Homo sapiens: one gene and its partners. The protein of the gene in region 2 interacts with the protein of the main gene of each other region in a pairwise test. Each region holds a gene or a part of one and is shown on either strand. Other genes may lie near its edges. The genes, in order: ZZZ3, ZNF212 and PPARGC1B.

Region 1 (3,652 bases), on a different chromosome or scaffold from region 2:
CAGCTTGGGCGACAGAGTGAGACTGTCTCAAAAAAATAAATAAATAAATAAATAAAATAAATAAAATAATAATCTTGAACTTATATAGCAGCTATCTTTCAAAAAACTATTCCAATCATTTCTCGTGTTCTTTCAAAATGTTCCCGGTATACAGAAAGGCAGGCTCTCCTCTTTTTAATTTACTTTTGCTAAAATGAGTTTCAGATCAAATCCCTTAATAATAATCTGGCATCCAAAAATTTTTTATTGCAGTATAATTTTTCATAACTAAATAGACAAAAATCACAATGCTAGCTTGCATTGGCTAAGAACAAAACAAAGCAAACCCAAGCCTTCCTAGTCTCTAGAAATAAAGCCATAAATTAGCAAGTGAAAGGGAGTGTTCCAAAGACCAGAAAAGAAAATGGGGAAGAAGCCTCTGAAGCAAATACTTACATTTAAGAAATCAAGACTACTCCTGTAATCCCACCCTTTCCTTCTTTGAACTCCTGTGTATAGCATATGCCAGTGCCAGTTTTAATGTGTGGTTTGGGAGATGAGCAGGTATTCTGGTGTGGATGCTTGAGGTTTATATGACAGAAATGTAAGGGATATAGAAAAATGCCTTGATTGATCCATTTGGGTAAACTAGTGATTTGGTGATATTTTCCAGAGGCTCTCCCATCAAGCAGAATAAAGGAGCTGTTAATATTTGAAGTCTCTATTCCCCGACTCCTCTTCTGTTTAGTTTTCACAAGGTACCCTGTCATTTTATTTCCTAACTTTGAATGAGATGCAGGATGATTAGTTAGAGAAAGAGGCCAGTGGTGGCAATAGTGCAAAGTTTCACAGTCCCTTCCTCCTGCCTTTGGTCATCAACAGTCTCCCTTCTCATGTAAACCTCCAAATGCCATTCTGACTCCTACCCCTAAAAATCAAACACAATTTCTCCTTGCTTCAACTAGAACTATCTAACAGTGGAAAGTTTGGAAGAATTATAGAAGACACAGCAACATGCTACCACATATAAAAAAGAAACACTACAGGAAATAATCTCCCTGTTCCTGCCTGCTGACAAGTGAATTAAGTGAGAAAGTACCCTGTAAAATATTTAAGTTGCCTGAGTTTAGTGTTGTCTCAAAGTATGGCATACTTTTAAATTTTTAATTAACAATTTTTTTAAATCTTATAAGAATCACAAAACTAGCCCTGGAATTAAAGCATGGTTATATGTTCTACAGAATTTCATAGCAACCAAGTGAACAATAAGTACAAGACACAAATCAGAACTTAGAAACACATTTCTTACAGTAGTAAACTTTCATTGTTTGGGGGATTCATTAAAAGAACAGCTGACATTTAATTATCGTTTGCTAATATATTATCATGAAGATTACAATCTGTTTCTTTCATGGGTAACAAACACTGAGTGTCCCATAATTTTCCACTTTTAATTGTAAAACATTTAAGTTAAACTTCAAATGATGTTTTAAAAGAACACAAACTGGCCAGGGGCAGTGGCTCATGCCTGTAATCCCGGTACTTTGGGAGGCCAAGGCAGACGGATTACTTGAGGTCAGGAGTTCGTGACCAGCCTGGCCAACATGGTGAAACCCCGTCTCTACTAAAAATACAAAAACTAGTAGGGCATGGTGGCACATGCCTGTAATCCCAGCTACTCGGGAGGCTGAGGCAGGAGAATCGCTTGAACCCAGGAGGCAAAGGTTGCAGTGAGCCGAGATCGCGCCACTGCACTCTAGCCTGGGCAACAGAGCGAGACTCTGTCTCAAAAAAAAATAAAAAGAAAAGAACACAAACTGAAATACATGAAAAGCAACTTACTTGTTTCATGTATCCAAATCTGGCACTCTAAAGGGTTAAGATTACTTATTTTTAAATATTAAATATGTATGTAAATGCACAAAAAAAGCATAAGGCTAAGTTAAATTTAATAACTAAAATGCCTACAAAATCTAATACATATTATCTTTAATGTAAATTCAACTATACTCATAATTTATGGTTCAAAAATAATACTGACAATAGAAATACTTTATAAACACACAAAAGAATCTGTTAGTCTTTACTTTTTAAAATGCAATCCCAATTAAGGGCATAAAAACCTCTTAAATTATTCCAATAATAAGACTTCCTTAACCTTTTCTTTCCACACCAATCTGAATGGGAGCAAAATTTGCCTTGCAGTACAAACTTCTCAAAGAGAGACTATTTTGGATGAAATGAACCTATTATTAGTAGTACTAAAAACCTTTTTTTTATACATATATTCTTTACTATAAAATATCACCTATAAGCTGGTCATGGTGGCTCAGGCCTGTAATCCCAGGACTTTGGGAAACCGAGGTAGGTGGATCACTTGAGCCCAGGAATTCGAGACCAAACTGGGCAACATGGCGAAACCCTGTCTCTACTAAAAATACAAAAAATTTATCCAGGTGTAGTGAAGCCTGCCTGTAGTCCCAGGTACTAGGGAGGCTGAGTGGGAGGATCACTTGAGCCTGGGAAGTCAAGGGTGTAGTGATGTGACTGCCCTTCAGCCTGGGTGATGGGAGCAAGGCCCTGTCTTGAAAAAAAAAAAAAAAAAAAAAAAATCACGTATAGTAAGGCCTATCTTAATTTTTCACCATTCCACTGATTAAAATATGAAAACACTGATTAATACAAAAGTTAAATAAAATATGAAAACACTGATTAATATAAAAGATTAAGGTTCTTTCCATTTCTTCTGTACCCTAAAAATGCTTTTATTTCACTCAATAACTAGAACAAAGCCCTAGTGCTAGGATTGTCAAATTCTGTGCTATTGGGCTGTATTGAAAGAGAACTTGTTTTATAACAAGGATCCTTGTGGTACCTCAGGCTCTTGCAGCTCAATCACGGGCATCTCCTGGAAGCTTGTTAGAAATGCAGAATACGAGGCTCCGCCCCAGACCTACCAACGAATTAGGCTCCTAGGTGATTCATGTATGTATTAGGGTTTGAGAAGCACTGCCTTAGGCTAGTGAACCCAGACAGAATTCTAATAAGATAATAGTCATCAAGTTTCAAACTAAATTAGAACTATTTATAAAATACCCTTTAATTTCTTACTGGATCCTAATAATAAAAAAATTTATAAATAAGACCAAGGAAGCACCAAATGGAAGACTATAAAAAATCTTACCTGAAATTAACATGTGATGTGCACTTGAGGTAATAAACTGGTTAAAATTATTAAGATCAGAGTTAAACAAAATTTTGCTAATCTTCCCTCTGATCATTTTTTTCTGTTCTAACCTTTTTCTTCATATCTTTTCTATTTTGGATAGGCATATATAAAGGTACACACTTTCTATAATTATCTAATAAACTGAGTGCAAAATTCAGTTAATAAAAAGGGACCAAAAATGTCTAGATTAGCCAGGTGCAGGGGCAGGGAAGTGGGGGCACCTACAGTCACAGATACTCAGGAGGCTGAGGCAAGAGGATCACTTGAGCCCAGGAGTTTGAGAACTGCCTGGACAATAGTGAGACCCTTTCTGTTAGAAAATAAAAAATAAAAAGTCTGTATTATCTCAACCAAGTCTCAACATTGTTTTGCCAAGCTTAGCAAAATATTATAGACTAAAGCAGTTGTTTTCCTCATTTTAGCTGCATTGCAAAATGTTTCTTA
Region 2 (3,380 bases):
TGAGAATCTAACGCCTGATGATCTGAGGTGGAACAGTTTCATTCCAAAACCATCCCGTCCCCCACCACTGTCTGTGGAAAACCTGTCTTCCACGAAACCAGTCCTGGTGCCAAAAAGGTTGGGGACCCCTGCCTTACAGCAAGCCAAGTTTCCTTCTACTTATTTGCTCGCTCTCCCCGTGGAAAACTGTAATGTCTTTTAACGGGTCTCCTTTGGTCCCAAGTGTTCTTACAAAATGTTTTGTGTACATGCATTTTTAATTTATATAAATGGTGTTACATTATAGATCTCAATTTCTTACCTTTTCCCCTCGGCATTGTGTTTAAGATGGATCCAGATGGCTACGCATATATCTAAGCCAATGCTCGTAACAGCTACCTGGCACTCCCTGGGGTACCCACATTTCACCTACTCTTTCTACCTCCCAATAGCCATCACCCAGACTGTCTCCAGCTCTCCACCATCATAAGTACAGTCCCCTGAAAATTTTCACCCATGCCACATCTTGTCTTCTGTCCTAGGTTTAAGTAAAAGTGCAGGTTAGGCTGTGCCATCAGTCCTTCCCTGTCATCACTCCAGGTCAGGTGCCTCTCCTCCACCTTGGCCCCAGGAGAGTGTTCTTGACAAACGGAGAAAAACATCCAGTATGAACTTTTTTTTTTTCTTTTGCTAGTAGCAAGTTTTATTCTAAGCAACCGCAAATCATCCAAGGGGATGTTCACATATGACCCCAGAGCCCACTCCCATCCCCCCAGACAGCAGCGGGGCACACATTCAACACTCCTGAGACAAGCCATCTGTGTGCTTTTTCTGTACCCTCTCTGGAATAGGCAATCCCAGAATGCATTTGGAAACTGTAATCCGAACCACCTCAAGTAAGGATTGGTGTAATAGGAACAAACTCAAATAACCACTGGTACAAGGTGAACAACCTTAAGTAACAAAGTAGTTTTCTACTCTGGGAGGCTGCAGAACATAGCCAGGAGGAGGTGGGAAGAGGAGAGGGGTATGCCGAGACACCGCAAGTCCCAGACCACAGCCATACCATCAGCAACTTCACTGGAATCTTTCTTCTCAACAGGGCTGCAGGGTCTACCCCTCCGACTCTTTTCCTCTTGGTCCTTTTGAGACAATTTGAGAGCACCAGGCACTGCACGAGGGAACCTAGCACCGTGTCCCCTGCTCTCCGGCCTAAGTAAGCATCAGTGGGCTAAAAGAGCCCCATTAACAACTCCCTCCTAGAGGGTAGGTCCAGTCCCCAAGTTAGGAACAACTTCTACAACTCTTAAAATGTAAAAAACAAGTGTTGGGCTGTATTCTTTAAAAAATCAACTAAAATCTAATTCCAAAAAAGGTTCTTCAGAGCAGGGCTAAGCAGTTCATTTAAATTATTTCTTCTACTTATTATTAAACAAAGAGATTATAAAACAAGAAAAAATGGAGGGTTATACTTCCCAGAACTCTTCCAGGCAGCTGCTCACCCCTATGGCCCGACTCAACCCCGTGGGAAGACATGAAATGCCGGGACGAGCCCTGGAACCAGCCACCAGTCCCTGTGGGGTCAGAACGCCAACCCCAGCCCACAAGCATTGGCATGAATGAGAAAACCAGAGACCTGAAGGTGCCAAGAAACAGCAAACTTGGCAGCAGGATGAAGACCTGGCCTGGACTCTTCTTCCACAGGGTTTTCAGGACAGCCTTTGGGCTTGGCTTGGTACTGGGACAAGGGAAGGCAATCACAAACAACTGCCCTCAGGAAGAACTCAGTCCCTGACTGCAGTGTCTCTTCGGGGGAACCAATGCCACCCCCCTCCATCCCCCAGACGGGCGAGGGGCTGCACCCTTAAAGCAGGCCATTGGGCCTTCCGGGCTCCAGGGCCAGCCCACCCCGCTCCCGCTGGTGGATCTTCTGGTGCTGCAGGAGGTGCTGCTTCTGGACAAAGCTCTTCTCACACTCAGTGCAGCTGTAGGGCCGCTCACCCGTGTGGATGCGCTGGTGCCGCACCAAGTCAGATGGGTGACTGAAGCTCTTGCCACAGTAACCACAGATGAGGGAACTCCGGCTTTTCCTCCAAGGGATGTGGCCAGGCAGGGCAACCAGGCTGTTGGGTGAGAACCTCTCTTGGACATGCTGGCCGGCACTGGGCCCCTCCTGCAGGTGGCAACGCTGATGGGTCACCAGGCTCACCTTGCAGCTGAAGCTCCTCAGGCACACATCACACTGATGCAGCTTGGCCTTTTTGGTCTGTGGTTTCAGCCGTGGCCTGGGCCTAAGGCTCTCCTCTGGCTCCTCAGGTGTACAAGACCCCCACCCAGAGTGGCTGCGCAGATGTGTGGCCAGCTGCTGCTTATAGCGGAAGGTGATCTCACACTCAGAACATTCGTAGGGGCGGGAAGTGTCCTTTTTCAGCTTCAGGCCCTGCCCACATTCCTGGTCCAGCTGTACCTGCCTATGAGATTTCTGCTTCGGGCAGCCCACAGTTCTGCTGCTGCTAGGAACTCTACTACCAACAGGCTCCTCTAGAGTAGAGTCCCCAGGACCTGTTTCCAAGAGGACAGAACTGCCCTGACCACCCCAGAGTTCGGTCTGCTCTGGGCTCAGGAAAGCCTGCTCTTCAGCAATGCATGAGAACTCTCCAGGAAGATCCGCAGGGCCTTCCTGTGTATACTGTAGCTCCTGTTTGATCATGACCCCACCTGCTGCAAAGTGGAAGAAGACCAACAAAAAAGATCACATTCTAGTACCTTTGGTTTCTTCAGGACCAAACAAACATCTGTGAATTTCAGAAGCACCCCAGGAATAAGTGAATTAGGATAACGTGGAGGAGGATGACACTGGCTAGGTTCCAAGACTTCTATAAAACTATATTCATGTACAGTTTTTCCAATGTTGATTGGAAATATAAATGTATTACTCTTATAAAACAATACTGTAAATGATAGTTCTCCAAGCTTGTCTACAAATTTATATTTAATCCCTGTGAAAAATGACAGAATACACTGTAACAACTATACTCAATTAAGAGTGTTAAAATAACAAATTTGAATGATTAAAGACAAACTAAACCTACAGCTTAAGAATTCATGTCCAGCTCTGTTCTTCCTCCATAACCTCCCAAATTACCTACTGACAAGTGCTTTTCCTGCACTGCCTTCCCTCCTGAAGCTCTGACATACCTACGCTCAATCTCCAGCAGGTTTTGACTACCGCCTCGTACGGTACTCTATTCTGTAGGGCATGAAGAATAATGATTGATGTGGCCGTTAGTCTTAAAGACCCCACAGGGTGGTAGGAGTTGAGGCATATGTAACAGCTGAACTAACGACAATCATAAAGGAGTCCAGAACAAGCAGATGCCAGATGAGGTCACCAAGTCAGC
Region 3 (3,652 bases), on a different chromosome or scaffold from region 2:
TAGGATTGGATGCAACAGTTCCCAGGAGAAGCGTCCAGGACCAGGAAGAGGAGGGGTTGTGTGTAGCCTTTGAGGACAGGACCCTTTGAAAAACACCTGTTACGCCTCTTCTTGTTAGGCTTGGAAGATGGGGCTCAAGGAGGAAAAGGGATGTTCTTTGACCCTGGATGTCTATGGCAGAGCTTTAAACCCTCCAATGGGCTCCCTGAGGGGGGAAAAAAAATCCAAACTATTTACTGTGGCCTCCACAACCAGCGCAATCTTGCATTTTGGTCTGTCACACTGTTGGAATACAGTCCTCTGAAGCCTGGCCACACTTTCCTCATCCTTGCTCTAAGCTGCATTAACATCTACCAGTGTCTGGAACACTAAAGTGTGAGAAAGTCCAGGGCTCCTTCCAGAAAACCCTAAACTAGGCTGGATCTCCAGAAGCAGTGCCCAGGACACCAGCTACAAGGGCTGTGGGAGGAGTGGGAAGAGATATTGGAGGTTGACTGAACTCGCTATCCTCCACCAGAGCTGAAGGCTGCAGCCCCAACAGACACCTGGGGTAGATTTGGGGGCATGTGAAGAAATACCTTAACACAAGGCCGTTGACTTTTAGATCTGAGGCCTGCCTGGCGCCAGGCGGTCCCTTCCTTCTGGGTGTCAGAGCTTGATGTTGGGTAGGATGTGGCCAGGAGGAGCTTCTGCAGCTGAGGGAAAAGCAGAGAGGACAGGAGCCGGGGCTGAGCCACAGCCAGAGGACATGGACTGCATGGCCAGCCCCTCAGGACTGACCTTGGGCATCACAGGACCACAGGGAGAACACAGGGTGGGCATTCCATGACCTGGGATGATGATCCCAAGATACTAGGTGCAGATGGTAGATTGTCTAACAATCCCGAACACACGTAAGTATGCTAATAACATACAAATCCTTTTCAGAGTTAATAACCCCAGGGAATAGCTATGACTTAGAAAAACTCAAGCAGGTCTTGGGTAACGTCTGTCTATTCTACTGTTAAAATATTATGATACAGTTTTATTGGGACATTCTGAGTGCACACACACACACACATACACACAATCTGGAAGGTTAGGTACCAAAATGATTCTCTGGTATGGGATTCTAGCTGATTTCCCCTTTGTTCTTTCTGTTTATTCATATTACCTCTAAAAATTAATTTCTTAAATTAAGCAAGGTAATACTTGTAAATGATTAAAAAAAAAAAAGAAGACACATCACAAATACTAAAGGGCAGACAATTAAAAGCAAGTCTCTCTCTTGCTCAAAGTCCCCTTCTGCCTCCTAGAGGCAACTCCACTAACTACTTTTCGGTGAACCTATCATGAGGTGGGCTTTCATTATGCAAGTATATGTATGTAGTCATTACCTCCAACCCACCCTGTTTTTTTTTTTTTTTCTTTTTTTTTTTTTTTTTTTTTTTTGAGATGCAGTCTCTGTCACCTAGGCTGGAGTGCAGTGGCAGGATCTCGGCTCACTGCAACCTCCACCTCACGGGTTCAAGCGATTCTCCTGCCTCAGCCTCCCAAGTAGCTGGGATTACAGGCGTCTGCCACCACACCCAGCTAATTTTTGTATTTTCGTAGAGATGGGGTTTTACCATGTTGGCCAGGCTGGTCTCAAACTCCTGACCTTAAGCGATCTGCCCGCCTCGGCCTCCCAAAGTGCTGAGATTATAGGCGTAAGCCACTGTGCCTGGCCCTACCCTGTTGTTTTTACACAAGTGGAAGACTACACTTAAGCTTGTTTGGCTTTTTTTTTTTTTTCTATAAAAACTGTAAAAGCTCTTCTGCTTCTGCACCCTGAGGGCAGGTACAGAGTGTACCTGAGCTGAGAGAGCAGGAAGTTGAATACATCTAGATTTTCCGCCGGAGATCCTAGCCAAGCTTGATAACAAACTGAGAAAGATCATGAGATTTTAGTACAGCACGGAGAGTTTCCCTGGGGAACATGCCACCCCAAGTCACTCCAACAAGGAATGCCAAAGGCCAGGAGCCAGAGAAAAGGCCACTCCACACTCTTGAGGAGCCACAGGATCCTGGCTACCCCACCTAAACCCCAAACCAGCACCCACATGTTTGTGACTTTTTCGATGGGAAATGATCCTAGGACTGGGGGAAAGAGACCTCATTCTAGCCTGGCTCAGGCCCGGTGCACTGTGAGAGCCTTGATTCCTCCATTGGTGTAATGAGCAGGGGCAGAGAGACTACATGGCTGGATTAAAACCTCTTTTTTTGACTCTAAGAATATGACAGAAGTTGCTGACCTCAGAAAATCACACAGACACACAGAGGTCCACAGGTCCTTACAAGTCCATCGCTGGACTCTCTGGGATCCATGGCCCAACCTGAGGTCCAGATGACTTCTCAGGGCCTTTTTGTTTGTTTGCTTTTTGTCTTTTAAAGAGATGGGGTCTTGCTCTGTCACCCAGGCTTGAATGCAGTATCATGATCCTAGCTCACTGAGGCCTCACACTCCTGGCTTTAGAAAATCCTCCTACCCCAGCCTCCAGAGTAGCTGGGACTACAGGCACGTGCCACCATACCGGGCTAATTTAAAAAAAAAAAAAAATCATAGAGATGGATCTTCCTATGTTGCCCAGGCTGGTCTCAAACTCCTGGCTTCAAGGGATCCTCCCACTCAGCCTCCCAAAGTGTTGGGATTACAGGTATAAGCCACTGTGCCCGGTCCCTCAGGGCCCTTCCAGATCTCTGTCGGTATGCAGGGAGTCTAGACAGCAAGTCTGTTTCCTGTGTGCCTTGCACAATGGCTGAAACAGAGGCACTCAATAAGCATGTAGGGAATGAAGGTAATCTAAGGCATGGGAGGGAAACAACCTTTGACCAGCAGGGGTCGCGCTTTGCCTCTTTAAGCTTTGGTTCTTCTCCAAAGGCCCCGTGAAGAAATGGCACTAGAATGCTTGTTACCACTAATGGTTGTACCAGAAGTATTAGTTCACATTTACTGAGCAACTCTATGTGCCAGGCACTGTTCTAAGTGCTTTATGTGTATTATCTGCTGTAATCCTCCTAATAGCCTTTGACATAGGCACTATTATTAACCCCTCTTTATAGATCAGGAAGCCGAGGCTTAGAGAGGTTCAGGATGTATGCCTAAGGGACATACAAGTACTAAATGGCAGGGCTGGGATTCAAACCTAGGTGCTTCGATTCCAGTCTGAAATGAAGCAGGACCCCCTCTCGGCAGGAGCCATAATGTGGGACTGAACATATTCTGTGCCTGGCATGGTGGGTGCTTCACGCTGCTTTGGGGAACTTGAAGGCAGTGGGAAGGAAGGGAAAGGGTCCTAGACTAGGAGTGAATACCTGAGTTCTAGTCTTTGCTGGCACACTGACTTGCTGTGTGACTACTGGAGATACCCTCCCCACTCTGGGCCACAGTTTTTCCAGAGCTGGGCTTGAGGGTCACCAAGGGCCTTTCCAGCTCAAACTCTCCATAACCTAAGAACCCTCCCGGCTCCAACAGGCTCTGATTTTCTAGCTGAGTCCTGCCAGCCTCCAGGAGCCACAGCACCAAGGGAGGGGCCCAAGACAGGCTGAGCAAAGCTAGACTTCACACTCCAGGACAGCTCAGCTATGGGTGCTCTCAGCCCGGATTGAGAGCGACTGCTTCCAGTAACTTCTG

Evidence for each region.
Region 1: the proteins of ZNF212 (region 2) and ZZZ3 interact in a two-hybrid assay, tested with the Homo sapiens proteins (one large-scale study listed by BioGRID and IntAct).
Region 3: the proteins of ZNF212 (region 2) and PPARGC1B interact in a two-hybrid assay, tested with the Homo sapiens proteins (one large-scale study listed by BioGRID and IntAct).

The regions. Positions count from the first base shown.
Region 1 is NC_000001.11:77,634,139-77,637,790, forward strand, and holds part of ZZZ3 (ZZ-type zinc finger-containing protein 3), read right to left. Parts: intron 1-3,652.
Region 2 is NC_000007.14:149,252,879-149,256,258, reverse strand, and holds the end of ZNF212 (zinc finger protein 212), read right to left. Parts: intron 2,701-3,380; coding exon 1,844-2,700; 3' UTR 653-1,843; downstream 1-652.
Region 3 is NC_000005.10:149,827,810-149,831,461, reverse strand, and holds part of PPARGC1B (peroxisome proliferator-activated receptor gamma coactivator 1-beta), read right to left. Parts: intron 696-3,652; coding exon 579-695; intron 1-578. UniProt on the Homo sapiens protein: Plays a role of stimulator of transcription factors and nuclear receptors activities. Activates transcriptional activity of estrogen receptor alpha, nuclear respiratory factor 1 (NRF1) and glucocorticoid receptor in the presence of glucocorticoids.